Homo sapiens: one gene and its partners. The protein of the gene in region 4 interacts with the protein of the main gene of each other region in a biochemical or structural test. Each region holds a gene or a part of one and is shown on either strand. Other genes may lie near its edges.

Evidence for each region.
Region 1: the proteins of RAF1 (region 4) and CDC37 form a complex in vitro, tested with the Homo sapiens proteins (2 studies listed by BioGRID, with this or other methods).
Region 2: the proteins of RAF1 (region 4) and RASD2 form a complex in vitro, tested with the Homo sapiens proteins (2 studies listed by BioGRID).
Region 3: of the proteins of RAF1 (region 4) and BAD, one has a biochemical effect on the other in vitro, tested with the Homo sapiens proteins (2 studies listed by BioGRID).

What each region holds. Positions count from the first base shown.
Region 1 is NC_000019.10:10,393,526-10,400,550, reverse strand, and holds part of CDC37 (hsp90 co-chaperone Cdc37), read left to right. Parts: intron 1-4,347; coding exon 4,348-4,623; intron 4,624-5,007; coding exon 5,008-5,116; intron 5,117-5,207; coding exon 5,208-5,323; intron 5,324-5,407; coding exon 5,408-5,530; intron 5,531-7,025. UniProt on the Homo sapiens protein: Co-chaperone that binds to numerous kinases and promotes their interaction with the Hsp90 complex, resulting in stabilization and promotion of their activity. Inhibits HSP90AA1 ATPase activity.
Region 2 is NC_000022.11:35,536,987-35,543,845, forward strand, and holds the start of RASD2 (GTP-binding protein Rhes precursor), read left to right. Parts: upstream 1-3,844; 5' UTR 3,845-4,514; intron 4,515-4,520; exon of another isoform or gene 4,521-5,634; intron 5,635-6,859. UniProt on the Homo sapiens protein: GTPase signaling protein that binds to and hydrolyzes GTP. Regulates signaling pathways involving G-proteins-coupled receptor and heterotrimeric proteins such as GNB1, GNB2 and GNB3.
Region 3 is NC_000011.10:64,274,660-64,281,684, forward strand, and holds part of BAD (bcl2-associated agonist of cell death), read right to left. Parts: intron 1-7,025. UniProt on the Homo sapiens protein: Promotes cell death. Successfully competes for the binding to Bcl-X(L), Bcl-2 and Bcl-W, thereby affecting the level of heterodimerization of these proteins with BAX. Can reverse the death repressor activity of Bcl-X(L), but not that of Bcl-2.
Region 4 is NC_000003.12:12,654,099-12,661,123, forward strand, and holds part of RAF1 (RAF proto-oncogene serine/threonine-protein kinase), read right to left. Parts: intron 1-7,025. UniProt on the Homo sapiens protein: Serine/threonine-protein kinase that acts as a regulatory link between the membrane-associated Ras GTPases and the MAPK/ERK cascade, and this critical regulatory link functions as a switch determining cell fate decisions including proliferation, differentiation, apoptosis, survival and oncogenic transformation.

The DNA of each region.
Region 1 (7,025 bases), on a different chromosome or scaffold from region 4:
TTTTTGTACTTTTTGGTAGAGACAGGGTTTCACCATGTTGCCCAGGCTGGTCTCAAACTGCTGAGCTCAGGCAATCCACCTGCCTCAGCCTCACAAAGTGCTGGGATTGTAGGTGTGAGCCACCAAGCCTGGCCTAAGACCTTGTCTCTTAAAAAAAAAAATTTCAAAGTTTCCAGAAGCGGACAAATGAATCCCTTTTCTCAGCCCCAGCTCGCCGGCTCTCCTGCCCAGAGACAGCTGCTGTTAGTGGTTTCTTCTAATGAGTTGTATGACATTGAGATTCTGTGAGCCTCAGTTTCCCTAACTGTAAGGCAGGAGGGTAGTGACATCTGTGGGCCCTGCTTGCTGGGGTGGCTTCTCCCCTGCCCAGCCTGCTACAGCCCCTCCCCGATAGGAGGTGTAAAGCCCAGGCTGGGCAGGCTGCCGCCCCCGCCAACTCCAAGAGGCCTTTTTTAGCTGCGGCCTCCCTGGCAGTTGTTCAGAGGACACAGGGGAGACTGGTGGCAGCCCAGCAGCGGATTGCAGGGTGGTGGGCAGGCTCCAGGGTGACACAGGCCCATCGTGGAGAAAGGGAGTTGGAGAGGCCACAGCTGCTTTTTTTTTTTTTTTTTTTTTTTTTAAGACGGAGTCTCACTCTGTTGCCCAGACAGGAGTGCAGTGGTGCCATCTCGGCTCACTGTAACCTCCACCTCCCAGGTTCAAGCAATTCTCCTGCCTCAGCCTCCCGAGTAGCTGGGACTACAGGTGCGCGCCACCATGCCCGGCTAATTTTTGTATTTTTTAAGTAGAGATGGGGTTTCACCATGTTGGCCAGGCTGGTCCCGAACTCCTGACCTCATGATCTGCCCGCCTGGCCTCCCAAAGTGTTGGGATTACAGGCATGAGCCACCACACCCAGCAACTTTTTTTTTTTAAGAGATGGAATCTCACTATGTTGCCTAGGCTGGTCTCAAATTCCTGAGCTCAAGTGATCCTCCCACCTCGGCCTCCCAAAGTGCTAGGATTATAGGCATGGGTCACTGTGCCCAGCCTGCAGCTGCTGTTTATCTCATGAGGTATAGCTTTTTTTTTTTTTTTTTTTTTTTTTCAGACAGGGTCATGCTCTGTCGCCCAGGCTGGAGTGCAGTGGGGCGATCTCAGCTCACTACAACTTCTGCCTCGGGTTCAAGCGATTCTGCCTCAGCCTCTGGAGTAGCTGGGATTGCAGGCGCCTGCCACCACGCCTGGCTAATTTTTGTGTTCTTAGGAGAGACGGGGTTTCACCATGTTGGCCAGGCTGGTTTCAAACTCCTGACCTCAGGTGATCCACCCGCTTCGGCCTCCCAAAGTGTTGGGATTACAGGAGTGAGCCACCACGCTCGACCACGTAGGCCTTCTTGACCCCTTATACATATAGGGGAATCCGAGGCTCAGGCTGGCTGTGTCAGTCCCCTGGGGTATTAGAGTAGGGGCCAGCTCTGCCTGGCCCTGCCTTAGAACCTGGGGACACAGCCTCAGATAAGGCACAGGAATGAGTCAGCAGACCATTCAGGTGGCAGTGACAAGGACGGAGATGGTAACAGTGGGACACACCTACTGAGGGCTGTTTTGGAAGCATTTTCCATAGAGTTAGTCATTCAGTTCTCACGGCGATCCTGTGAGACTCCATTTCACAGAGGGGAAGACCAAGGCTGGGAAAGGTTTCAGTGACATGGCCAAAGTTCCATCTCCCGTCAGTGGCACAGCCGGGTGCTGTGACCATGTAGTAACAACCACTCCCAGTTATTGAGCGTGTACTCTGGGCCAGAAATTAAACTAAGCATTTGAAGGACATTTCCTTTTTGAGGCCCCAGAGTGGTCCCCAGAGAGAGAGAGAGATTGTTCTCTTGCACAGATGGTAATGACCCTGGCCAGTACAGGAAGGGTGCGTGCTGAGGGCCCACATGGCTCGGGACATTTTACTCTAATCATCTCCTTAGTTTCTTCCAATATGAGCTTGTGCAGTCAGCATTGTTGACTGTTTGACAGATGAGGAAACTGAGGTTACAGGAGGTTAGGGGATGGCCCGGGATACCCAGCCGGTACATGGTGGCTGTGGGCTAGGACCCAGGGGCCGTTGCCCCAAGGCTGTCCTCCAGCACCCTCACCACATCGTCAGATGGTCACAGGAGGTCCTTTAGGGATCAGTGGTGCCTCAGGCAGGGAGCATTTGGGGAAGGCTCTGTTGAAGCTGAGTTTTGGGTGCAAAAGCAGGTAAGGGAACCGCACATGCAGAGGCCAAGAGGCAAGACAGAGCCCGTACTTTCGGGGAACGATGAGGGCCAGTATCTGCCTGGGACCCAGGACCAGGATGCCAGGATCAGAAGTCCCATCTGAATTCAGACCCCCCAAGATGTAGTGGGGAGGACTCTGGTCACGTGGTCAAATGCATGGGCTTCACAGGCCTCCCTGGTGGCAGCTGTGCCTGGATTGGAGAGGGTCAGCAATTGAAGGTGGTGGCACGTTTCAGGGTTTCAGGGTTTGATTAGTGGCTCTGGATAGAGCAGCCTCCACTGAGGTTCAGGAGAGGTGATGGTGGAGCCACGCAGGGGTCTCAGGAGAGGCCTGTACAATCCGATGGGGCCCAGATGGAGGTCTGAGGGAGACAGGGAGTGAGGCGGGGACCAGGAGCCTGAGGAGATGAGGCACTGTTATAAGGAGAAAGAGGAGTGCCTGGGGAGTGACATCTGGGGCTGGGGTGAGCGGGAAGCAGGTAGACACCAAGCTGGGGCTCAGGAGGGCATGCTGGGCTGGAGACAGAGCTAAGAGGGCCTTGGCAGTGATCCTGGGGCAAGGTTATGGGTGGAACAAAGAAACATCTAGAAGGGGCCCTGGTGCAGTGGCTCATGCCTGTAATCCCAGCACTTTGGGAGGCCAAGGTGGGTGGATCACTTGAGGTCAGGAGTTCAAGACCAGCCAACATGGAGAAACCCCGTCTCTATTAAAAATACAAAATTACCCAGGCGTGGTGGCGCGTGCCTGTAATCCCAGCTACTAAGGAGGCTGAGGCAGGAAAATTGCTTGAACACGGGAGGCAGAGGTTGCAGTGAGCCAAGATCACGCCACTGCACTCCAGCCTGGGCGACTCCGTCTCAAAAAAAAAAAAAAAAAAAAAAAGCCAGGCTTGGTGGTTTGTGTGCACCTGTAGTCCCAGCTACTTGGGGTTGAGGCAGGTTGAGCCTGGGAGATCAAGGCTGCAGTGAGCCATTATCACACCACTGCACTCTAGTCTGCATGACAACAAGACCTTGTTCAAACAAAACTGAACAAAATAAAAACAAAAAAAAAAACAAGCATTTGCTGAGCCCGTGCTTTGCACCAGGCCACGTTCCTGGTTCTGGGAACAAAATGGCGAACACGTTCCCATATTTAGAGAGCAGGGCTTCATTCATTGGAGGGGGGCAGTACCCAAAACGTGATAAATAATTGTCATATGATGTTAGTGGTTGCTGATGTTGAGGAGGCAGGGAATTCCAGACAGGGGCAGCGGGAAGTTGCCATCATCAGGAAGGTGGTTGGGGAAGGGGTCCTCGCTAAGGCAACATGGAGCCCAGATGGCACGGGTGCCATGGAGTCAGCTGTGGGGGGCTCTGAAGGAAAAGCATTCCAAGTAGTTGGAACAGCCAGTGCGAAGGCCTTGAGGTTCAAGAAAAAAGTGGGCTCCGCAGAGTGCAGTAGCTCCCGCCTGTAGTCCCAGCACTTTGGGAGGCCGAGAGGGAAGGATCGCTTGAACCCAGGACTTCAAGACCAGCCTGGGCAACATGGCAAACCCCATCTTTACTGAAAATACAAAAATTAGCTGGGCGTGCTGGTGCACACCTGTAGTCCCAGCTACTTGGGAGACTGAGGTGGGAGGATCGCCTGAGCCCAGGGAGGTCGAGGCTGCAGTATGTCATCATTGGGCCACTGCACTCTGACCTGGACGACAGAGTGAGACCCTGTTTTTTGTTTTGTTTTGTTTTGTTTTCTTAAACAAAAAAAATGGCCTCAAGAAAAGGTGAGAAAAGTGAGGGGCTGGTGTAGCTGGAAGGAAGAGTTACCAGGGGAGGTGCCGAGGCAGATTGTGTAGGGCCCATGTAGGCTGTGGTGACAACTTGGGTTCTGCTGTGAGATGGGAGCCGCCAGGGTTCTGAGCAGAGGACGGAGGGACCTGACCCCACTTGGGTGTGCGCTGGCACCTGTGGGCGCAGGGGCGGAAGCTGGGAGACCAGGGCACGGGAGGTGGACGCGTACTTTTTCCTGGGGCCATCTCCGGTGCAGGGATTGGGTATGGGGCGGGGGTAAGGGACAGACGACTCCCCAGAGTTGATAGGCCGTCCCTGCCCGCAGGCCCGGGTGGAACGCATGGAGCAGTTCCAGAAGGAGAAGGAGGAACTGGACAGGGGCTGCCGCGAGTGCAAGCGCAAGGTGGCCGAGTGCCAGAGGAAACTGAAGGAGCTGGAGGTGGCCGAGGGCGGCAAGGCAGAGCTGGAGCGCCTGCAGGCCGAGGCACAGCAGCTGCGCAAGGAGGAGCGGAGCTGGGAGCAGAAGCTGGAGGAGATGCGCAAGAAGGAGAAGAGCATGCCCTGGAACGTGGACACGCTCAGCAAAGACGGCTTCAGCAAGGTGTGCGGGGCGGGCGGGGCGGGCAGTGCGCATGCGCAGCCAGAGAGCCTGCAACCAGGACGCATGCGCACCCAATGCCTGGTCAGGGGAGGACCCCGGTGGTGTAGTTGAAGAGTGTGGTGGGGGGCGGGGAGCTGAGGGATGGACGGGGGCCACGTGGGAGGGGGGACAGGCTTGGGGGGCCGGGCGGATGAAACACCCCACCGGTCCCCTCCTCTGATCTGCCCCAAGGCCCATGCCCACGCTCCCGCCACCTTGATGCTCATGGCTTCGTCACCACCTCCGCCGTGGATGGGATGGGCGCTGCGACCACGGCCCGCCCGGCCGCGCTCGAGGCGCTCCGCAGCCTTGCCCCAGCCCACTCCCCCTCTCACCCTACCACAGAGCATGGTAAATACCAAGCCCGAGAAGACGGAGGAGGACTCAGAGGAGGTGAGGGAGCAGAAACACAAGACCTTCGTGGAAAAATACGAGAAACAGATCAAGCACTTTGGTGAGTGGGGCTTGTGGGTTATGGGGGGCAAGGTCGAGGCAGGCCCTTTGCCTCCAGGGCCCTCCAGCACCTTGCCAGCATCTTCCCACAGGCATGCTTCGCCGCTGGGATGACAGCCAAAAGTACCTGTCAGACAACGTCCACCTGGTGTGCGAGGAGACAGCCAATTACCTGGTCATTTGGTGCATTGACCTAGAGGTGGAGGAGGTGAGTGGAGCTTTCCCCGGGACTGTGAAAAGGCGCTGCCATGAGGCCGCCACTTGGTGACGCTGTGCCTGTTCTTCCTGGCAGAAATGTGCACTCATGGAGCAGGTGGCCCACCAGACAATCGTCATGCAATTTATCCTGGAGCTGGCCAAGAGCCTAAAGGTGGACCCCCGGGCCTGCTTCCGGCAGTTCTTCACTAAGATTAAGGTAGGGTCCCTGAGCTGCCAGGTGGCTGGAGGCCCCCTCCCCAGGGAACCAGCCCACAATGCTCTAGGTAAGGCCGACTCCTCTCCACTGGGACTCAAGCCCCTCCAGTCACCGCATCCTAGATCAGGAGAGGGTGGGGCCAGGGAGGAGGAGAGAAGTGGGCAGATTCTGCCAGACTTTAAAAGTGGAGGCCGGGCGCAGTGGCTCACGCCTGTAATCCCAGCACTTTGGGAGGCTGAGGTGGGCAGATCACCTGAGGTTGGAAGTTTGAGACCAGCCTAACATGGAGAAACCTCATCTCTACTGAAAATACAAAATTAGCCGGGCATGGTGGTGTGTGCCTGTAATCCCAGCTACTCGGGGGGCTGAGGCAGGAGAATCGCTTGAACCTGGGAGGCAGAGGTTGCTGTGAGCCGAGATCGTGCCATTGCACTTCAGCCTAGGCAACAAGAGCGAAATTCCATCTCAAAAATAAATAAATAAATAAATTAATTAATTAAATAAAAGTGGAGGTCAGGCCAGGCTTGGTGACTGAGTACTATAGTCCCAACTATTTGGGAGGCTGAGGCAGGAGGATCACTTGAGCTCAGGAGTTTGAGCTGTGGTTTGCCACTGCACTGCAGCCTGGGTGACAGAGCAAAACTGCATTACAAAAAAATGTGGGAGCAGTAGGATGTGCTGAAGGTACCCAGGTGAATATGTGGGTAAAGGACAAAGGTGAGGGTGCCTCTAGGGTTTTGGGTTTTAGTTCATTTTTGAGACAGAGTCTTGCTCTGTCACCAAGGCTGGAATGCAGTGGCGTGATCTCAGCTCACTGCAACCCCTGCCTCCCGGGTTCAAGCAATTCTAGTGCTTCAGCCTCCCAAGTAGCTGGGATTACAGGTGCCTGCCAGCCTCAGGGTTTTTTTGTTGTTGTTGTTTTGTTTTTTTTGAGATGGAGTCTCACTCTGTTGCCCAGGCTGGAGTGCAGTAGCACGATCTCGGCTCACTGCAACCTCCGCCTCCTGGGTTCAAGCGATCCTCCAGCCTCAACCTCCTGAGTAGCTGGGACTACAGGCATGTGCCACCATGCCCGGTTAATTTTTTGTATTTTAGTAGAGACGGGGTTTCACCGTGTTAGCCAGGATGTTTTCGAACTCCTGACCTCGTGATCCGCCCGCCTCGGCCTCCCAAAGTGCTGGGATTACAGGCGTGAGCCACCGCGCCCGGCCTAGCCTCTAGGATTTTTAACCTGCGTACCTGGAGGAACAGGGCTATCCTTACCGAGATTAGGGAGACCAAGGACAAGGCAGGCTGGGAGGTGGCCATGTTGAGTTAGAGGTGCCCATGCAGGGACACTGAGGACATGAGTGTCTCAGATCTGCAGTAGAGCAGGGCTCCCAAGCAGGTGGTCTTTGGCAAATGCCAGATGAGGTCCCCGGCGGGGGAGCCCAGGCCTTGGGGAGCCCTTCATGTAGGTCAGGAATAGACTTGGGGAACCGTGGGGCGCCTCTGA
Region 2 (6,859 bases), on a different chromosome or scaffold from region 4:
GCCTGGGTTTTGGTATCTTTTAAAAGCTCCCCTAGGTGATTCTAATGCGCCGCCAGCATTAGGAACTGCTGTTCTAGAAAAGCAGCCTGACGTGTGCTTTTTTTCCTATTGGAATAATTTCTCTTGGACCCCAGCTCAGCCTCTCATTAGCTGCCTGGTTTTGAACAGTCTCCCTGAACCTCAGTTTCCCCTTCTGTAAGTGGGGCTGTTAGGAGGACTAAGTGAAACTCTGCTTCACTGTGTCTGTCCACCCTTCCCTGTGTCCAAGGAGAGCTTGTACGTTTCTTCTGCTCTGAGACTGTTTGGCTGAACACAATTCAATAAGCATTTATTAAAAACTTATAATGTGTGAGATGCTGCCCTTAATGATGTGAGAATAAAAGGATGAATCAGGCTCGGTCCCCACTCAAAAGAGCTCACATGCTAATGGGGGTGACGAGGCATGTGTCCAAAATATGAAGCAGGAAGTAACACCGGCTACGGAGGAAGTAATCATGGTGAAGGCCATTATGTGTGAAGCACTTCGCAGTTTATTTTAATCCTCCCAACAACTCCACGAGGCAGCTACTATTGTAACACCCACTTTTACAGGCCAAGAAACTGAGGCTTAAAGAGAGGACCAGTTACCCACAGCACAAGAGCCAGGCTTTGGTGCTGTGGGAGCCCAGAGGAGGAGATTCACACCATTAGAAAGGCTGGGAGTAAGTTTTGTGGGGAGAAGTGTGGACACAGTGCTTTGAAGAATGTGTAGGAGTTTGATGGGTAAATACAGAGAAAAGGGTATCCCTGATAAGAAACCAGCATACACAAGCTCAGAGGAGGGATAGCTTCTCTTCTTTAGAGACCCGGAAGTGATTTGATTTTGCTGGAATGGAGGTTGAGTGCAGGGCATGGTGGGAATCACGTCCTGGTTGGAGGCCTTGTTCGCTAGGATAAGGAATTTAGATTTTTAGACTTTATATCTTTTTTTTTTTTTTGAGACAGAGTCTTGCTCCGTCGCCCAGGCTAGAGCACAGTGACACGATCTCGGCTCACTGCAACCTCTGCCTCCTGGATACAAGCAATTCTCATGTCCCAGCCTCCCGAGTAGCTGGAATTATAGGCGCACACCACCACGCCTGGGTAGTTTTTATATTTTTAGTATAAAATTATTATATTTTATATTTTTAGTAGTAGGGTTTTGCTATGTTGGCCAGGCTGGTCTCAAACTATTGGCCTCAAGTGATCCTCCCATCTTGGCCTCCCAAAGTGCTGGGATTATAGGCGTGAGCCACCACACCCAGCCCAAGATTTTATATCTTAAGCAATGGGGAGCCCTTGAAAACTCTTGAGCAGGAGGTGGCAGTTTTAGAACAGGGCTAAAATGGTCACAGGTTATATGGGAGAGAGAGGGTGACAGGGAGCCCAGGGACGAAGGGGGCAGCTATGACAAAGGGTCTGATGAGGGATGATAAAGCAAGTGGGTGGGGAGGGGGGAAGGGGAAAATAGGCACATGTGAGAAGTGTGCTGTTGCTACACAAAGCTTCCTTGGGCATCAGTTGATCCCTTATGTGTATTTGCTTATTGACTGAGCCCTACCATACCAGGAGTGGGGGAGGGCAGGAGCAGAAGACAGAGGCTGGGGCAAGTGGACCTCCCAGGGTTCTCACTCCACATGCAGCTCCCCTCGCGACTGGGATATGGTCAGTGGGACATGACCCATTCTGTTGAACAACTCTGCAGAAGCAGGGAGCAATTGGTTCTTGGGCCGTCTGCTACATTTCCGTGATGGAGGTGGCAGAGCTGGCCCAGCGACCTGAGTCTTCCTGACCCCAGCCTTCCAGGTGAAGCGTGCCACCCTGCTCACCTCCCACTGCCAAGTTCACTGCCAGCTCAAGGCTCACAGCCTGTGTGTGTCATGCCCAGCACAAACCCTCCCGGGCTGAAGCCAGTTCCCAGAGGCAAAGTCTGGATGTGGAAAATGCACCAGGCTGCAATCCTGCCACTTGCCACCAGGTGACTTTGGGCACATCCCCTTAGCCCCTCTGTGGCCTAAATTGGGGCATTAAACACAATCAGGTAGTACAGGTACTGCACCCTCCACCCCCACCTGCCCCATCCTCTCTGGTTAACTTTCCTGGAGAATCTCAAGATGTTACAGAGACAAGCAAAGCAAGTCACTTTCCATATTCAAAGTCCCAGGCCATTTTAGTACTTCTGTCATTCTGTGGACCCATCAATATCATACCCATTTTAGAGATGGCACAACCAGGACCCAGAGACTTTTCATGACGGCCCAGGGTCAGATATCTAGGTAGTTACGGAGACAGGACTTGAACGCCAGTCTCTCAGCCAATGGAGCTGACCCCTCAGGTGCCCTCCCAGACCCCTGCGTCCTCTCATGAGGTAGGGAGGCCAGATCTGGGTTGGGGGTGAGGCTGGCAGACATCCCTGAGGTCCAGGGATCTGGAACTGAGGGACACAGACACAGCATCCCATCCCTTTGCTGTATCACACAACGAGAACATTCTCTTTTAAGCCTCCTGATATGTGAAGGAGAAAGTCTCTGTTAGGTGCTAATGGGTATTTAACACCTCTCCAAACCTTGCCAATCTCCCTTTTTCACTGAGGGCACACATCTCAAGCCTTGGCAGGCCACGGTTTCCAGCTGGAATTTAATAACCTTGCTTTGTTTTCACTGTGCTTATTTTAACTCTTACTTTCTATTTATGGCAAGTGATACTGATTTCCCATTTAAGGCAGTGATATAATGATTCTCTAAAAAAACGTGTTTAAGGGGTGGGGAAAGTGGATCTGATATTTTAAAAAATATATTAAGTAATAAGTGGTGTGGAGATATGGCCCAGTGAGAAGGCCCGATGTCTGGCCTAGGTCAAGCCCCTCATTTAAAGGTGGGGAGGGAGAATGCAGGCAGGAGACGCAATGCTCAAGGCACCTGGTGTGTCCCCGTCGGCCGTGGTCTCTGAGACTCGCATGCCTCGAAGACCTCTGGCTACTAAGCCTAGGTGACTCCCCGCCCCTCTGGGCGACACGTGCATGGCCCATGTGCCAGTCCGCAGGGTCCCGTGGGCACCGTGAGCTCGGGAGGGAGGCGGCGGCTGGGACAGGCAGGTTGGACACCTGGGAGGGCACCCGGGGACTTCCGCGAAGGAGGAGGGCGCTGGAACCGTGGCGCGCTCGACCTGGCCGGGCGCAAGCCGCTGGAGACCCCGGCCGAGTGGGCAGGCGGCCGGACCCCATGCGGGTCACCTGCGGCCAGGCCGGGCGTGCGTGTGAGCGCGTGCGCAGACGTCAGCCTCCGAGGCCCGGGCCGCCTTCTGGGCAAGGTGCGCGCGCCCAGCGGCCCCGGCCCCACGCGCCCGGACACGCGGAACCGCAGACCGCGGCGCCCCGGAGGCCGCGAAAGGGATGGGCGGGGCCGGGCCGCGGGACCCGCCTCCCATTGGCCGGGCGCCGGGGCGAGGCGGGGCGCCGGGGTGGGGCGGGGCGAGCGGGCTCTGGGGGGCAGACGCTGGCGCTGGGCGGCGGGAGGCGCGGCTCGCGGGGGGCCGAAGGAGCAGGTGGGCGACGCTCGCAGGGGCGCGGGAGGGTGCCGCTGGGACCGTCATCAGGAGCCTGGGGTTCTGCCACCTTTCGGAGGGATCAGCGACCTCTTCGCCCTGCGGGTGACAGTGGGGCATCTGCCTGCGAGAGGGGGAAGGAGGGAGAACCCAGGGCCACACACAAAGTTCTCCTCATCTGGGGACAGGAGGAGGTGAAGGAGGAGGAGCCGGGTTGATGCTAACTTGGAGCTGCGAAACCTTGGGGCGGCGTTCAAGGCCCCCTCCCACACGCGCGCAGAGCAGAGCGCCCTGCTCCTCCTTCAGCTGCTGGCGTCGCCGCGCGGGGAGAAAGAAGCCGTCCCTCCGGCGCTGGGAGAGCTGCAGAGCCGCGGGCAGAGAAGGAGGCCGCGGCCGAGCCCGGCAGCCCGATACCCCCCATCCGAGCGACCCCCTTTGGGGCAGGCGGAGAAGGTGGCATAGGCGACCAGGAGGGTTCGCCCACCTGGGACACGCACCCACAGTCACCTCCAAAGGACCCCCCCTCCCCAAGTCTCTAGGAGCTGCTCCTTCATCACTGGAGTCGCCCCTACCTCTCTGCCCCCAGCCCGAGAGCCCCAGGCGGGGACCCCCGGATCGGACGTCCCCAAGCCTCCGGGCACCTGGCTCAGCAGGAGGCCCCCGGCTCGGGGCAGGGCAGGGCCGGCGGCGGCGAGCCGGAGCCCGCCCCCTGCCCGGGCCCCGCCGAGCCCTCGGAGCCCACCCATGGGGCACCTGCCCCTTGCGCCTCCTTGCCCGGCCGCGCCCAGCCCGGCGTCCCGAGCAGCGCAGGGGAGGATCCCCGCGCAGTGACCCGGGAGCCACCACAGACTCTGGGAGGCTCGGCGGCTGGAGCAGCAGGCAGCTCCCCGCAGCTCCCGGCGCTTCCAGGCAGCTCTCTGAGCCGTGCCAGAGGCCCGGCCCGCCATTCCCAGGTAGGAGACGCCCCAACAGAGCTGGGCATCTGGGGGAAGTGGAGCAGCCGGGAAGAAAGGGTAGAGGCTTGGAGGAGGAAAGCTCAGTGATTCCTTAGATGACCAGAGAAAGTGAAATTGATTGAGCACCTACTATGTGCCGGGATCGTCTGGCAACTTTGCATACCTAGAGAGAATTAAATTCGTTGAGCACCTACTGTATGTGTCAAACTGAGTGCTATACCCTTGACTTAATCCCAGGAAAGAAAGATTTATTGAGCTTCTACTATGTGCTAGTTTTGGTGCCACAGGCTTTGCATTTAAAGAGCTAGAGTAATAGCCCATTTAAATAGGAGGAAACGGGGGCTCAGGGAAGACGAGTCAACTACCACAAACACTCCTGTCCCTCTTCTGGAGCTGGCTGCAGCCTGCATTACCTGGAGGTGGGGAAGGAAGATTAAGAAGCTCCTTCGTTATCCAGAGTTCTTGAGCTTTTTCTGGGTTGGTGCAGAGTGAGTTTCCTGGATGATTCCCTTCCCAGGAGGGGTTTCCTGTAACTTAGCTGTCTTGGAGGGCCCGGAAGGCAGCTCTGGAGGCCTCTCTGTGCCCTCCCCTCCCCTTGTCCCCAGCACCAGGAGGATGACAGGGGATGTTGTCCAAGACCTCATGGAAGGTGGGAAGCCAGGCTGGGAGGGAGCAGCCAGGTCAGGAGCCAGTGAATCAAGCCTCCTGTGGTGTCAGAGACAAGATGGGGTCCCTGCAAGACCTGCGCCTGCATTCCAGTCCAGCCTCACCAGGCTGCTCTAGGCAGCCCCACGACTGCCAAGATAAAGTGCCACGAAGAAAAGAACCCAGCATGTGTTCAGGTTTGCTGCGGGTCAAGAGCTGGGTCAGCCTCCAGACTTATTGGAAACCCAGGGCCACACAGGGGGTTTATGTCTTACCATTAACAGAGGAATAACCTGAGCCCCAGGAAGCCAAGTCATTTGCCCAGGGCTGCCGGGCTGGTGAGAGGCAGAGTTGGCCTGCCAGAAGTGGATGCCTGCCTACCTTCTACCACCTGAGCTGCCAAGGGTGGTGGGGTTGGCTTTGCCAAGCTCCCGGACTCTCAGAGTGGCAGCTGGAAGCCAGTGATGGCAATGTGCGTGTCCAAAGAGGCTGAGTGTGCACTGATGGAGGAGGCATGGGGGTGTGGAGGAGGGGCAGTGCAGTGAAACAGGCTCTGGGGCATACACCGGGAGGACACGTCCAGACTCTTGTCCTGCTGCCTGTGCCCGTGTGACCCCTTCATCTTTCAGGCAGGCCCTGGGAGAGAGGCTCAAGGGAGAAGTGGTGAATCCACAGGTGCACTTGCTCAGAGGTGGCTGGCAGGGTTAGGGGAGAATCCTGGGAGGTGCCTGCCCCCTTTCCGCTCCGCTGCCTGCAGGGAGAGAGGGAGTGAGAATATAGTATGTCTCGGCGTCATCCCCCCGCCTGATGCCAGCTGAGGCTTCACTGAGACAGACAGTGTTTTGGAAAAGACCAGTTTTGGCTGGGGGTGGGTTTTCATAGAGTTAAGAGCCCAGACTTTGAAGCCAAACAGCCTGGTTCTGATCCCAGCCCAGCTAGTCATCTGCTGTGTGAACTGGGGCAAGTGACTTAACCTCTCTGAGCATCAGTGTCCCCATCAGTCAAGTGGGCTGATGGATGCCTTCCTGGCTGTGGTTACTGTGCCCCCAGGATGGCGTCCCCTCATCTCTGCTCTGGGAACTTTCTGGCTTCCACCTGTCCTCAGAATGGCCCTGTGATGGGGTCAGTAGTCACAGTATGTGCATTCAGATACCTGTGCCGCTAGGGGGTCTCCGTTGAATTTCCTGCCTCTCTGAGCCTCCTCTCTCTGATTCCTTACTTCCCCTCTCTGATTCCCTGCCTCCTCTCTCTGACTTCCTGAAATCCATTCAGTCACTGATATTGGACTCTAAATTCCCAAAGGGCTCTTCAAACTCATCCCTGTCTGCTCCTCGCTGTATGAGGTCAGCCTGGCTGAGGATGGAGAAGGGAGAACAGGCTGCAGAGGAGAGATGTGCCTACGAGGGTGCCCATGGTGCCACCTCTGGGGGAAGAGAGGGAAGAAAGATGTGGAGGCAGGAGGCGGAGCCCACAGAGGCACTGTCCCCTGGCGTCCAGGTGTCCAGATGTCTCACACAGCCCCACGTGGCTCAGGCCATGTGAAGAATCAGTCTTCTCTCAGAGATAAAAACCACAGAGGATTTTTTTTCTCTTTTTCCCCACCCTGATTCCCTGTCTCTTATTTCTGACTCCTTGCCTCCTCTATCTGTCACCTTGCCTCCTCTCTCTGACTCTTTGCCTCCTCTCTGACTCCCTGC
Region 3 (7,025 bases), on a different chromosome or scaffold from region 4:
AAAACACAAAAATTAGCCAGGTGTGGTGGCGCGAGCCTGTAATCCCAGCTACTCAGGAGGCTGAGGCGGGAGAATCACTTGAACCCAGGAGGCAGAGGTTGCAGTGAGCCGAGATTGCACCACTGCACTCCAGCCTGGGTGGCAGAGTGAGACTCTGTCTCAAAAAAAAAAAGAAACTAGCCAGGCATGGTGGTGTGGGCCTGTAGTCCCAGCTACTAGGGAGGTTAAGGCACAAGAATCACTTGAACCTGGGAGGCGGAGGTTGCAGTGAGCTGAGATCTCACCATTGCACTCCAGTCTGGCAGTCTGGGAGACAGAGTGAGACTTTGTCTCAAAAAAAAAAAAAAAAAAAAAAAGCGAGTAAGGGAACGAGAGGACGGAATCCGGAAAGGCCTAGGGTAAGATAGGCTGTGATCAGAGTGCCTGGGCATTCTGAGCATCACCAAAGCCCAGAGCTGCCCCCAGGTCAGGTGGGGATACCTCAAGACCCTGGAGGAGTGAGGTGGCAGTGGGGAGAGGCATACTAGGTCAGGAGTAAAGATTACAGATGACAGCCAGGCGTGGCGGCTCATGCCTATAATCCCAGCACCTTGGGAGGCTGAAGGATTTCGGATAGGGGCAGGAGAGCCGGGAACAGAAGGGGCACTGACGGAACAGGCCTGTCTGCAGAGTAATTTCCAGTTCTGTGGTGCGGTGACTGTGGAGCAGGGGTCAGCTAGGTGGGCCAGGCCCTGGCCACATTCCTGCTCTGACCTTAGCCCATTCTCCAACCCTTTGGGGCCCCAGTGTCTTCTGTGAAATGGGGGCAGTTCCCCATCTGCCAGGATCGCCATGACAACAAATGAGAGCAGGAAAGCCCCCTACCGGCCCCTCATAGCCTGAGGCCTCTGAGAGTCCCAGCCAGGTGAATATCCAGCTCTCCCTGTTGTACAGATGAGGAAACAGAGGCAGAGGTTAAGAACTTGCCTGAGGCCGTGTGGCTGGGACAGCCTGCTTAGCCACCTAAATACGCAGGAAACGGCAGCTGTTCTCCTCCACTAGCTCTGAGTGGGGCCACAGGACCACTACGCTTGCCGGACACAAGGCCCCACAGGTGGAAGGTGAGTGACTTGCACCCAGGCACTTGGCCTGGGCACTGCCCCTTGCCCAGGGATCAGAACAAGCAGAAGACACTGGGCAGGTATGGTGGATGGTCGGAAGCCCTCCCTGTGTATTCATTCATTTGATCCTTGCCACACCCTATCAGGGAGGTTCCTCATGGTTGCCATTTTACAGAGGAAGAAACTAAGGCAGAGAGCATAGGTAACTTGCCCAAGGTCACTGATCTAGTAGGTAGCAGAGCTGGGATCCCAACCCAACCAATGTGGCTTCAGGGGCTGTGTGCTTAGCTGTCATGCCCCAGGCTCCTTCCAGCTGTACCTTGGGCTGCCTTGGAGGCCTAGGCTGGGGAAGGCCCCTTTGGGCCTTCTGCTAGCACCAGTTCTGCCAGGAACCTGTCCTATGGGGTGGGAGTTTTTCACCAAATTCGTGGACTTAGCCAAGCTAGTTGTTATCAAGATGATACCCATTTGTGTAAATTGAATTATATATATGTAAATACAAATATACATATATTTATGTGTGTGTGTGTGTATATATTTGTGTGTGTGTGTGTGTATATATATATATATGTATTTTTTTTTTTTTAGAGGGAGTCTTGCTTTGTCACCCAGGCTGGAGTACAGTGATGTGATCTTGGCTCACTGCAACCTCTGCTCACCAGGTTCAAATGATTCTCCTGCCTCAGCCTCCTGGGTAGCTGGGATTACAGGTGCCCGCCACCATGCCCAGCTAATTTTTGTATTTTTAGTAGAGACGGGGTTTCACCATGTTGGTCGGGCTGGTCTTTAACTCCTGACCTCAGGCAATCCAAGTGCCTCGGCCCCCCAAAGTGCTGGGATTACAGGCGTGAGCCACGGTGCCCAGCCCTAAATTGAATTTTTAAAAAGTGTTCTATTTACAGGGAAAAACCCTGGGGGAGTGTCTGTGAATTCCCTGGGGGAAGGAGAGGGCTGGGGCAGGGCCTGGGCCAGACTCTCCCTTCTCTGGGGAAGGGAAGGGGTGTGGCTCCTCCTTGGGTGTGAACGTGGGTGGGTGCCCAGGCCTGCCCACTCTTGCCATCCGCCTAGAGCCTGGCCCGGAGCTGGGTGTGGAAGTGGAGGGTAGTGGCTGTGGCTAGAAGTGCCCCAGGCCCCAGCATGGCACCTCTAGCTTTACATTCTCTGCGTGTTGGGCTTCTGAGTCAGCGGCTGGGGCGGACATCCCTGCTGATGCTTCCGCGAGCATCCCTGCACTGGGATTTTCAGAGTCCTCAGATTCCCAAGAAGGAGAATACGAAGTTCTCCCTGTTTTATAGATGAGGAAACAGAGGCACACTTAATTACAAGACACTTGCACACTGAATTGCACACTTAATTAAAACAGTGGTGTTCCAGACCGTTTGGAGCAGTGAAGCTCTGCCATCAGGCAAGGGCTGGGTTTGGATCCTGCCCCTACCACATGCCGACCACACACAATCTGCTGCCGGGGGAGGCTGACGTCAGTGGCCAGCACAGTGGCCAGTGCTGCCACCCCACCCTGGGCAGACACTCGCAGCCTGTCCGCCTCCGGCACCTGTAGGCCTCAGCCTTGACTATAGCCTTCCGGTACAGAAGCCCCTTCAGGCCTGCAGAGAACACCCCCAACCTTGCTCAGAGCTCATAAAATCAGAAAGTACTCTAAAGTTGGCAAATGTTTCCTTTTTGTTTTTAAAAAACAGCGACAGGGTCTCTCTCTGTCACCCAGACTGGAGTGGGGTGGCACGATCTCAGCTTACTGCAGCCTCAAAATCCTAGGCGCAATCGATCTTCCCACCTCAGCCTCCTGAGTAGCTTGGACTACAGGCATCACCATGCCCGGCTAATTTTTTAATTTAAAAAATTTTTAGAGAAGTGTCTTGCCATCTTGCCCAGGCTGGTCTCGAACTCCTGAGCTCAAGTGATCCTCCTGCCTTGGCCTCCCAGAGTGCTGGGATTACAGGTATGAAAGGCTGGCTGGCAAATGTTTGTTCACTTTCTTTTCCCTTTTCCTAAGTTAGCTGAAAATGTTTTCTATAAAGGGGGTTCAGTGGGCCACGTGGTCTCTGTGACAACCACTCACCTTTGTGGCCAGAGCTGAAAGGAAACCATAATCAATGTGTAAATGAATACACTGCACCTTGCTGTGTTCCACTAACACTTTCTTTAGGGACCTTGAAATTTGAATTTCATAGAATGTTCACGTTACAAAATATAGTTCTTTGGATTTTTGTCCATAACTTAAAAATATAGGCCCAATGTGGTGGCTCATGCCTGTAATCCCAACACTTTGGGAGGCCAAGGCAAAAGGACTGCTTGAGGCCAGGAGTTCGAGACCAGCCTGAGCAACACAGAAAGACCCTTGTCTCTACAAAAATTAAAATAAAAAAATTAGCCAGGCATGGTGGCGTGCGCCTGTAGTCCCAGCTACTTAGGAAGCTGAGGTGGGAGGATGGCTGGAGCCCAGAAATTTGAGGCTTTATAAATATATAAAGCCAAGAATGTACATAAAGGCAAGAAAATCACTTGAACCTGGGAGGTAGAGGTTGCTGCGAGGCGAGATTGCACCACTGCACTCCAGCCTGGGCGACAGAGTGAGGCTCCATCTTGGAAAAAAAAATTATATATATATATTTATATATAAATATATATATACATAAATAATAACAATGGCAGTTCTAATAATAAGAGCCGCAAACACTTAGCCCCTCCTCTGCGCCAGGCACTGTTTCCAAGCACTTTTCCTATATTAACTCATCAGGTCCTCGCCACAGCCCTGCGAGGTGGGACTAGTTCTATTCCCGTTTACAGATGAGGAAACTCAGGCAGATGGAGTTAATTAACCTGCTCAAGCTCAACCTGCTAGGAAGGGTAGAGCCACGTTTGAACCCTGCAGTCTGGCCCAGGGGCTAGCACTGGGCTGCTTCTTTCTGCCTCTCCACTGTCCACACCTGTTTCAGACACTGGGCTGTGTGGGCTGTCACAGCACAAGGTGGCTGCAGTCCCTGCCCTGGGGACACCTCAGCCATCCAGCAGGGGGGCCTGGTGGCAGGGACTATGAGGAGTGACCGAACCAAGTGTGAGTTGCTCTGCGCAGGTAGAGAGGGCAGAGGCCCCGTGGCTCTGGCGGGGCACTGGCACTTGCTGATCTTTTCTGGGAAACCACTTGCTTTTGGAGACACTGAAAACTAAATCAAAAGGTTAAGAAATCCAGCTCTGTCCTCACCTGGCAGCTGTCTTCTCCCGCAGCCCTCTTTCCTACGGGTCTGCAGCTGGGGCTGGGGGGAGGTGTCGTCCCTGGCCTGTGCAGAATGTTACTCCTGTCCTCTGCCACTCCACCAGCACCCTGTCTCCTTTCTGTACCTTGCTACTCCTTCTACCATGATCTTGTCCCACTCTCCCCTCAGACTCATTCCCAGGGACATAACCTAGGCCTTGTCACCATCAAATAACTCCATCCCAAGCTTCCCACCAGCTGACCCAACCTGTGTGGATCATGCCCCCGGGACCCCAACTCCAACGATGCTGCGGCTTCCCAGGGCTTGCTCCCTTCCCTGAAGCTCAGCCAGCTTGGACCCCACATCTACCATTCCTTCCTTTGCACACACCTGAAGCCCCTACCCCTAACTGGACTGAGACAAGCACAACTCTGGTTCAGACTCCAAGTCCCTGCCAGCTCCCACTAGCACCCTGCTAAAAATCCCACCAGATGCTTAAAAGCCACCTCTAGCGGCCAGACGCGGTGGCTCATGCCTGTAATCCCAGCATTTTGGGAGGCTGAGGCGGGTGGATCACGAGGTCAGGAATTCGAGACCAGCCTGGCCAACATGGTGAAACCCCCGTCTCCACTAAAAACACAAAAATTAGCTGGGCATGGTGCATGCCTGTAATCCCAGCTACTGGGGAGGCTCAGGCAGGAGAATGGCATGAACCCAGGAGGTGGAAGTTGCAGTGAGCCGAGATCGTGCCACTGCACTCCAGCCTGGGTGACAGAGTAAGACTCTATCTCAAAAAAAAAAAAAAAAAAAAAATCCCCCTCTATCCCACCCTCTAGGGTAGCCTCCAGATCCTCCCTCACCCTTCAGTGTTTCTTCTCCATTAAAAGCAACTTCATCCTACCGGGTGCTCAAGCCAGATTCCTTGGTGTTGGCTGGGCACTGTGGCTCATGCCTGTAATCCCAGCACTTTGTGAGGCCAAGGTGGGAGGATCACTTGGGGCCAGGAGCTCAAGACCAGCCTGGCCAACATAGCAAGACCTTGTCTCTAAAATTAATAATAATTTGGCCAGGCGCGGTGGCTCACGCCTGTAATCCCAGCACTTTGGGAGGCCAAGGCGGGCGGATCACAAGGTCAGGAGATCGAGACCATCCTGGCTAACATGGTGAAACCCCATCTCTACTAAAAACACACAAAAAAATTAGCTGGGCATGGTGGCGGGAGGCTGTAGTCCGAGCTACTCTGGAGGCTGAGGCAGGAGAATGGCGTGAACCCGGGAGGCAGAGCTTGCAGTGAGCTGAGATGGTGCCACTGCACTCCAGCCTGGGCGACAGAGCAAGACTCCATGTCAAAAATAAAATAAAATAATAATAATAATAATAATAATAATTTTTTTTTTTGAGACGGAGTCTTGCTCTGTCGCCCAGGCTGGAGTGCAGTGGCACCATCTCGGCTCACTGCAAGCTCTGCCTCCCGGGTTCATGCCATTCTCCTGCCTCAGCCTCCCGAGTAGCTGGGACTATAGGCACCCACCACCACGCCCGGCTAATTTTTTGTATTTTTAGTAGAGACGGGGTTTCACCGTGTTAGCCAGGATGGTCTTGATCTCCTGACCTCGTGATCCGCCCGCCTCGGCCTCCCAAAGTGCTGGGATTACAGGCGTGAGCCACCGCGCCTGGCCTAATTTATTTTATTTTTATTTATTTTTTGTTTTTTGAGACGGACTCTTGCTCTGTCACCCAGGCTGGAGTGCAGTGGCAGGATTTCAGCTCACTGCGACCTCCACCTCCTGGGTTCAAGTGATTCTCCTGCCTCAGCCTCTCAGGTAGCTGGGATTACAGGCGCCCACCACCACATCCAGCTAATTTGTGTATTTGTAGTAGAGACAGGATTTCACCAAGTTGGCCAGGCTGTTCTTGAACTCCTGACCTCAAGTGATCTGCCTGCCTCAGCCTCCCGATGTGCTGGGATTACAGGTGTGAGCCACCACGCCCGGCCAATAATAATTTTTTTTTTGAGACGGAATCTTGCTCTGTCACCCAGGCTGGAGTGCAGTGGTGCAATCTCTGCTCACTGCAAGCTCCGCCTCCCGGGCTCACGCCATTCTCCTGCCTCAGCCTCCAGAGTAGCTGGGACTACAGGCGCCCACCACCACGCCCAGAGAATTTTTTGTATTTTTAGTGGAGACGGGGTTCACCGTGTTAGCCAGAATGGTCTCTATCTCCTGACCTCATGATCTGCCCACCTCGAACTACCAAAGTGCTGGGATTATAGGCGTGAGCCACCGCGCCCAGCCTAATAGTTTTTTTAAAATTCCTTGGCATCATCCTGACTCCTCTCTTTCCCTCGCACCCCACATCCAGTCCATCAGCAGATCCTGCCAGTTCTGCTTTAAAAATAAATCCAGGGATCAGCTACTTCTCACCACCTCCCTGGTGACTCTCTGAATGTCTAAATCTGACCATGCTGCCTCTGCTCAAATCCTTTCCAGGTTTTTACTCAAAGGCAATGCCAGAGTCCTTAGAATGACCTTCAACTTTAGGTCTCCAAATACCCTTTCCTAAACCCCCTCCCCTAGGCCCACCCTAGCCAGGAGCAGGTGTTGCCCTCGAGGCCTTACCATCTGCCCTTCTCTCTGCCTGGAACTCTCTTCCCATCATCCCTGTGGCCTTGGCTCCAGTGGTGCTTCTCACCAAGGTGAGTGCTGACCACCTC
Region 4 (7,025 bases):
CTCTCTCCTCAGCCTACCAAGTAGCTGGGACTACAGGCGCATACCACATGCCTGACTAGTTTTTTTGGTTTTAGAGATGGGGTCTCACTATGATGCCCAGGCTGGTTTTGAACTCCTGGCCTCAAGCAATCCTCCCTCCTTGGCCTCCCAAAGTGCTGGGATTATAGGCATGAGCCACAGAGGCTGGCCCTAAATACATTATAGAATAAAAAAGTATGAGAGGCCAGGCACAGTGGCTCATGCCTATAATCCCAGCATTTTGGGAGGCCAAGGCGGGAGAATCACTTGAGCTCAGCACTTCGACATCAGCCTGGGCAACATGGCAAAACCCCATCTCTACAAAAAATACAAAAATTAGCTGAGTGTGGTGGCACACACCTGTAGTCCCAGCTACTCAGCAGGTTCAGGAGGGAAGATGGCTTGTGCCTGGGAGGTCAAGGCTACGGTGAGTGGAGATCGCACCACTGCACTCCAGCCTGGGCAATGGAGTGAGACTGTGTCACTCACAACACAAAAAAAGGGTATGAGTATAAAGTAACTACAACTGTGTGTATCAACTTATAGAAAAACTTTATTCATTTTTTTTTTTGCTTATTTTTCTTCTTACACCTCACAAGGATGAAAGAAAGTGTTCTTTTTAAAAAGATGTCATTAATTGTGTACATAATGTATCCCTTTGAACAACATTATACACAAGTTTAAGAGGGAGGAAAAAACCCATCAGATCCAAATATAGCCAAATTCAAAGGTTCTGGTTTGCCCATTACATCTAAGTAGCAATAAGAAGAAAAGGAGGGCTGGGCGCAGTGGCTCAAGCCTGTAATCCCAGTACTTTAGGAGGCTAAAATGGGAGGATCAATGGAGGCCAGGAGTTCGAGACCAACCTGGTAAACATAGTGAGACCCCCCCCCCGCCATCTCTAAAATAGTAAAAATAATAATTTTTTAAAATGCAAAAAGCCTACAACCACTTCACAGTCATTAGGGTTGTTATTTTATTTATTTATTTTTTGAGACGAAGTCTCACTCTTGTGGAGTGCAATGGCGCAATCTCAGCTCACTGCAACCTCTGCCTCCCGAGTTCAAGCGATTCTCCTGCCTCAACCTCCCAAGTAGCTGGGATTACAGGCATGCGCCAACAAGCCCAGCGAATTTTTTTTGTACTTTTAGTAGAGACGGGGTTTCACCATGTTGGCCAGGCTGGTCTCGAACTCCTGACCTCAGGTGATCCGCCCGCCTCGGCCTCCCAAAGTGCTGGGATTACAGGCATGAGCCACCGTGCCCAGCCCAAGATTGTTACTTTAAAAATTAAAAAAGAAAAAATAACAAGTGTTGGAAAAGATGTGGCAAAACTGGAACCCTTGTGCTTTGCTGGTGGGAAATGTAAAATGGTGCAGTCACTGTGCAAAACAGTTTGGCAGTTCCTCAAAAAGTAAACACAGAATTACCATATGATCCAGTAATTCTACTCCTGTGCATTACCCTAAGGCACTGAAAGCAGGGGCTCCAACAGATATTTGTACACCAATGTTCACTGCAGCATTATTTACAACAACCAAAAGGTGGAAATAATCCAAGTGTCCATCACTGATGAGGAGATAAACAAAATGATATATTCATACAATGAAATATTATTCAGCCATAAAAAGGAATAAAATACAGATACATGCCACCACCACATGGATAAACCTCAAAAATGTGCTAAGTAAAATAAGCCAGACAAAAAAGGCCAGATAGTGTATGACTCCCCTTACATGAGGTACCTGGAATAGGCAAATTCATAGAGAGAAAGTAGAATAGGGGTTACGAGGAACTGGGCATAGGGAGGAATGAGGAGTTCTTGCTTAATGAGTACTGTTTCTGTTTGAGGTAACAAAAAGGTTCTGGAAACGAGTAGTGGCGATGGTTTTAAGACATTGTGAATGTTGTTAAATGTCACTGGATTGTAGATACACACACACACACCCCACCCCCAATCCGCCCCCTTCCAACTTACATAAGACAGCCTAGGGGTCCATTTTGCATTGTCAGGCAATACTAGATAATACTAGCCAGGGAAATCACAATCTCTCCTCTCAAAATCACACTATAATGCTGGACCAGACTAAGGTCAAAAATGGTAGAAGATTATCATTTATCCCCCCATTCTCTCTGGGTATAACTTTCTTCCATATCTAAAACCTATGAATGCAAAAGGAAATAGCCAGCATGGTAACAGCTGCTTGAGCTGAAGAGTCAGTGTCCTGCTAAAGCAGGCAAATGTCATCAAGGAGCTAGCAGGCAGAACCTAGAGCACTCTACATATAATGCCCAATAGAGGGAGAAGCTTAAGCAACTTACCTCCTCCAACAGACAGGTCCTAAGTTACAAAGTTCTAAGTTTGAATTTAGTAAGTGTAGCCTCTTTACTGTAAGCATTTTGGAGAGATGGCAGTAGAGTGAAACTAAATCCATAAGTGATTAACCTCTGATTAATGTTTGCTGTGTAAGACAAGGTTTTGAGAACTGGAGATATATAAAAAAGGATAAGACATGCCCCACTGGAAATATATAGGCAAGAGTAAGACATGCCTCATTTTTAAACTGAGACATAAGACATCTATACAAGAAATTCAACTTGGCCACTGCGGTGGCTCACACCTGTAATCCCAGCATTCTGGGAGGCTGAGACAGGTGGATCATCTGCAGTCAGGAGTTCAAGACCAGTCTGGCCAACATCATGAAACCCCATCTCTACTAAAAATACAAAATTTAGCCGGGCGTGGTGGCAGATGCCTGTAATCCCTGCTACTTGGGAAGCTGAGACAGGAGAATCACTTGAACCCGGGAGACAGAGGTTGCAGTGAACCAACATCACGCCACTGTACGCCAGCCTTTGTGATAAGAGTGAAACTCCATCTCGGGGAAAAAAAAAAAAAAGAGGAATAGATAAAAGTAAGGAAATGTCAGCCTCTCTCAATTAGATAAGGTCCTTGAAGGTAGGAACTTGCCTTATGCTGCACCAAGTGCACTGGCCTGCACCTACAGGGGCCTAAAAATACTGGCTTTTGATTTCCACTAAACATACTATTACTATGAGAAAGCCATGTGAGCAAGACACAGAAGCAAGAATTGTATATACTTAGTCTGGTAGCCAGGGAGAGCCTGGAAGATTTGAGCAAGAAAGTAAGGCCAGCACATCTACCCTTAAATATTTTTGTGTCGTCACAAAATAGGATACATAAGAATTCACATTTCCCTCTGTGAAAGGAAGCTGGGTAGCTAGAGAACAAAGGAGAACGTAGAATAACTATGCACAACATAACTTTCTATATCCTTTAAATTTTGTGACATCTGACATTATTACTTACTCAAAGAAAATAATATTTAATTCTTAAGAATTTCCAGGCAGGGGCCAGGCGCAGTGGCTCACACCTGTAAATCCCAGCACTTTGGGAGGCCGAGGTGGGCAGATTACCTGAGGTCGGGAGTTCGAGACCAGTCTCACTATCATGGAGAAACCCCATCTCTACTAAAAATACAAAATTAGTCGGGCATGGTGGTGCATGCCTGTAACCCCAGCTACTCAGGAGGCTGAGGCAGGAGAATCGCTTGAACCCAAGGCAGAGGTTGCGGTGAGCTGAGATTGTGCACCACTGCACTCCAGCCTGGGCAACAAGAGCAAAACATCTCAAAAAAAAAAAAGTACACAATAAAATGGCTTTTATTATATTCACAGTTGTGGATCCATCTCCATAATTGTAGAACACTTTTATCACCCAAAAAAAAAACAAAACAAAACAAAACAAAACAAAAAAAAACCCTATCACAGTCACTGACCATTCCCTACATCCCTCAGCCCCTGATCTACTTTCTGTCACTAAGGATTTTCCTATTCTGGACATTACATATAAATGGAATAATTCAATATGTGGTCTTTCCTGCATGGTTTCTTTTACTTAATATGTTTCCAATGTTGTAGTATACACCAGTACATCCTTTCTTTTTATTACTGAGTAACATTCCATCACATAGTAGTGCTTCCATATCCACTTGGAATATGTTCCAAGACTACCAATGAATGCCTGAAAGCAAGAACAGTATACTATACTGTATACACTATGTTTTTTCCTGTACATACATACCCATGATCAAGTTTAACATATAAATTAGGCACAGTGAGAGATTAATTATAATTAATAATGGAACAATTATAAGAACATAATATCATAAAAGTTATGTGAGGGCTGGGCGTGGTGGCTCACGCCTGTAATCCCAGCACTTTGGGAGGCTGAGGCAGGCAGATCACCTGAGTTAGGGAGTTCAAGACCAGCATGACCAACACAGTGAAACCCTGTCTCTACTAAAAATACAAAATTAGCCAGGTGTGGTGGCGCATGCCTGTAATCCCAGCTACTCAGGAGGCTGAGGCAGGAGAATCGCTTGAACCCAGGAGGCAGAGGCTGTGGTGAGGAAAGATCATGCCACTGCACTCCAGCCTGGGCAACAAGAACGAAACTCCGTCTCAAAAAAAACAAAAAAAGAAACAAACAAAATTGACTGCCACTGCCTGCTGCTTCCCATTTATTAACAAAAAATGTAAACAACCTCTAAATCATAAAGATTTTAAAACCGTAAACTAGCTTTAGGATTGTTAAGCCCCACCCAGTAAAACCCCTTAGAATCTGGTCTAAAAATAAAACCGTGTGTCAAGTGTTCCTCAAAAAATGCTATGTACACTGATTGGAATGTGATGCCAATTAACATACTTTGTGAGTAATTTGCCAAACTTTAGATAGTCTAGGCCAAAACCACTAACAAAGAAACAACACCCACTTGACATTTTCCTTAGTTAAGCTGAGATTCTAGGGGTCATTTTAGAAGAAAGGCAAACAGATGTGAAATTAACTAAAATCATTTAGAGCTACGCAAGTCATTCTGGGAGAAAAGAAGTAACAAAATGACTCAAACATTGTAAAATTAAAGATCAAACCTTAATGTGTAATTAAGGAATTTTTACTTACAACTCTAAGGCAAGAAAAAAATAGCCATTACTATCATGAGAATTACAAGGCAAGATGCCTGAGCGAGCCTGTAATGCCAGCACTTTGGGAAGCCGAGGCAGGTGGATCACTTGAGGTCAGGAGTTCAAGACCAGCCTGGCCAACATGGTGAAACCTCGTCTCTACTAAAAATACAAAAATTAGCCAGGCAAGGTGGCCGGCGCCTGTAATCCCAGCTACTCGGGAGGCTGAGGCATGAGAATCCCTTGAACCTGGGAGACGGAGGTTGTAGTGAGCCAAGATCACACCACTGCACTCCAGCCTGGGCAACAGCACCAGATTTCATCTCAAAAAAAAAAAAAAAAAATTACACGCAAGATAAGTTAGCCCTATACCAAAAGTACCAACTGAATTGCAACACAAATATCTAGTATTACATTTTGAACCCAGTCAGATGAGCAATTAGGAATTCTACCCTCCCATACACATACCAAACAACCTCATCCTAAATAAACCCAGTGTTCTCTGATTTTCCAATTAATTTATTCAAGGTAAGTAATTTTCCACCTCATAGTCATTTGTTTTGAAGAAATGACTCCCAAGATCTGAACAACTTAAAAACAAAAACTAAGTCAAAAAGCTCAATTTTATGGTTTCATAAACCCCCTCACTGTCACATTATCCACTGCCTTTCAAAGGCAATATTTAAAATTGTCTTCTGCAAGTCAACATTAAGGCATGCTGTTTGGCTAACAAGCTCCTCCCAAGCTCAAGATTATTATGTATGGCCTATTATGATCCTAACATGCAAACAAAAGTACTCCCTCATGTAACATTTTTTTAGGCAGTAGGTTACTAACAAAGATTTACCTGAAATTTAAATGTAGAATCATACATTTACTAGTAATAGACTACCTGAAATAGTAGTTTAAAGTTATCAATTATATTTTTTATTTCGTAAATAATCCAGTGCTTCTGGAAAAGTCAAATTTAACTTCCAAGAAGTATGAACTTGCTTAATCTTCAGAGCAAACAAATGACATGTTATAAACTAAAAGCTACTAGTCTAAGAGCAACTGTAATATAATACTTGATGTTTAACATTCTTCACTTCATCTTTTAGATACTTTTTGTCAGAAATTACCAGCTTAATCTGCTTCTCACTGTTTTTTTCAGCTAAACCAAATCCCATAAAATACGTTCAAGCCTTCTATTGAAGGCACACTTTTTTTTTTTGAGACAGGGTCTCACTCCATCACCAACACTGGAGTACAGTGGCATGAACATGGCTCACTGCAGCCTCAATCTCCCTGGGCTCAGGTGAGCCTTTCACCTCAGCCTCCCAAGCAGCTGGGACTACAGGCATACTACACCATACCCTGCTGATTTTTTTCTTTTTGTGTGTGTGTATTTTTTGTAGGGACAGGTTTTCACCATGTTGCCCAGGCTGGTCTCAAACTCCTGAGCTCTAGCAATTCACCAGCCTCGGCCTCCCAAAGTGCTGGGCTTACAGGCCTGAGCCACCACAACTGGCTGATGTTTTTACAACTACTGACAAGACTTTAACAAAACTAAGGAACTCCACTACAATTTATAATCACAAAACACCACATATCAGCCAGGCACAGTGGCTCACGCCTGTAATCCCAGCACTTTGCAAGGCCAAGGCGGGTAGATCACAAGGTCAGGAGTTCAAGACCAGCCTGGCTAATATGGTGAAATCCCGTCTCTACTAAAAACATAAAAGTTGGCTAGGCGTGGTGGCAGGCGCCTGTAGTCCCAGCTACTCAGGAGGCTGAGGCAGGAGAATGCTTAAACCCAGGAGGCAGAGGTCGCAGTGAGCCAAGATCGCACCACTGCGCTAAAAAAACACCACATATCTTTAAAAGATAAGCCTTTAGTACAGAAACAGTAACAGGTTTATTTTTCCAAGTATCCCAGCATTCAACTGGGTCAAATGTTTATGTTGCATTTTAAACAGCTTAGCCCTTGAGTGATAAGGGTAAAAACAAGCCAAAATAATCCTGAATGTTCTTCAGTGGTAT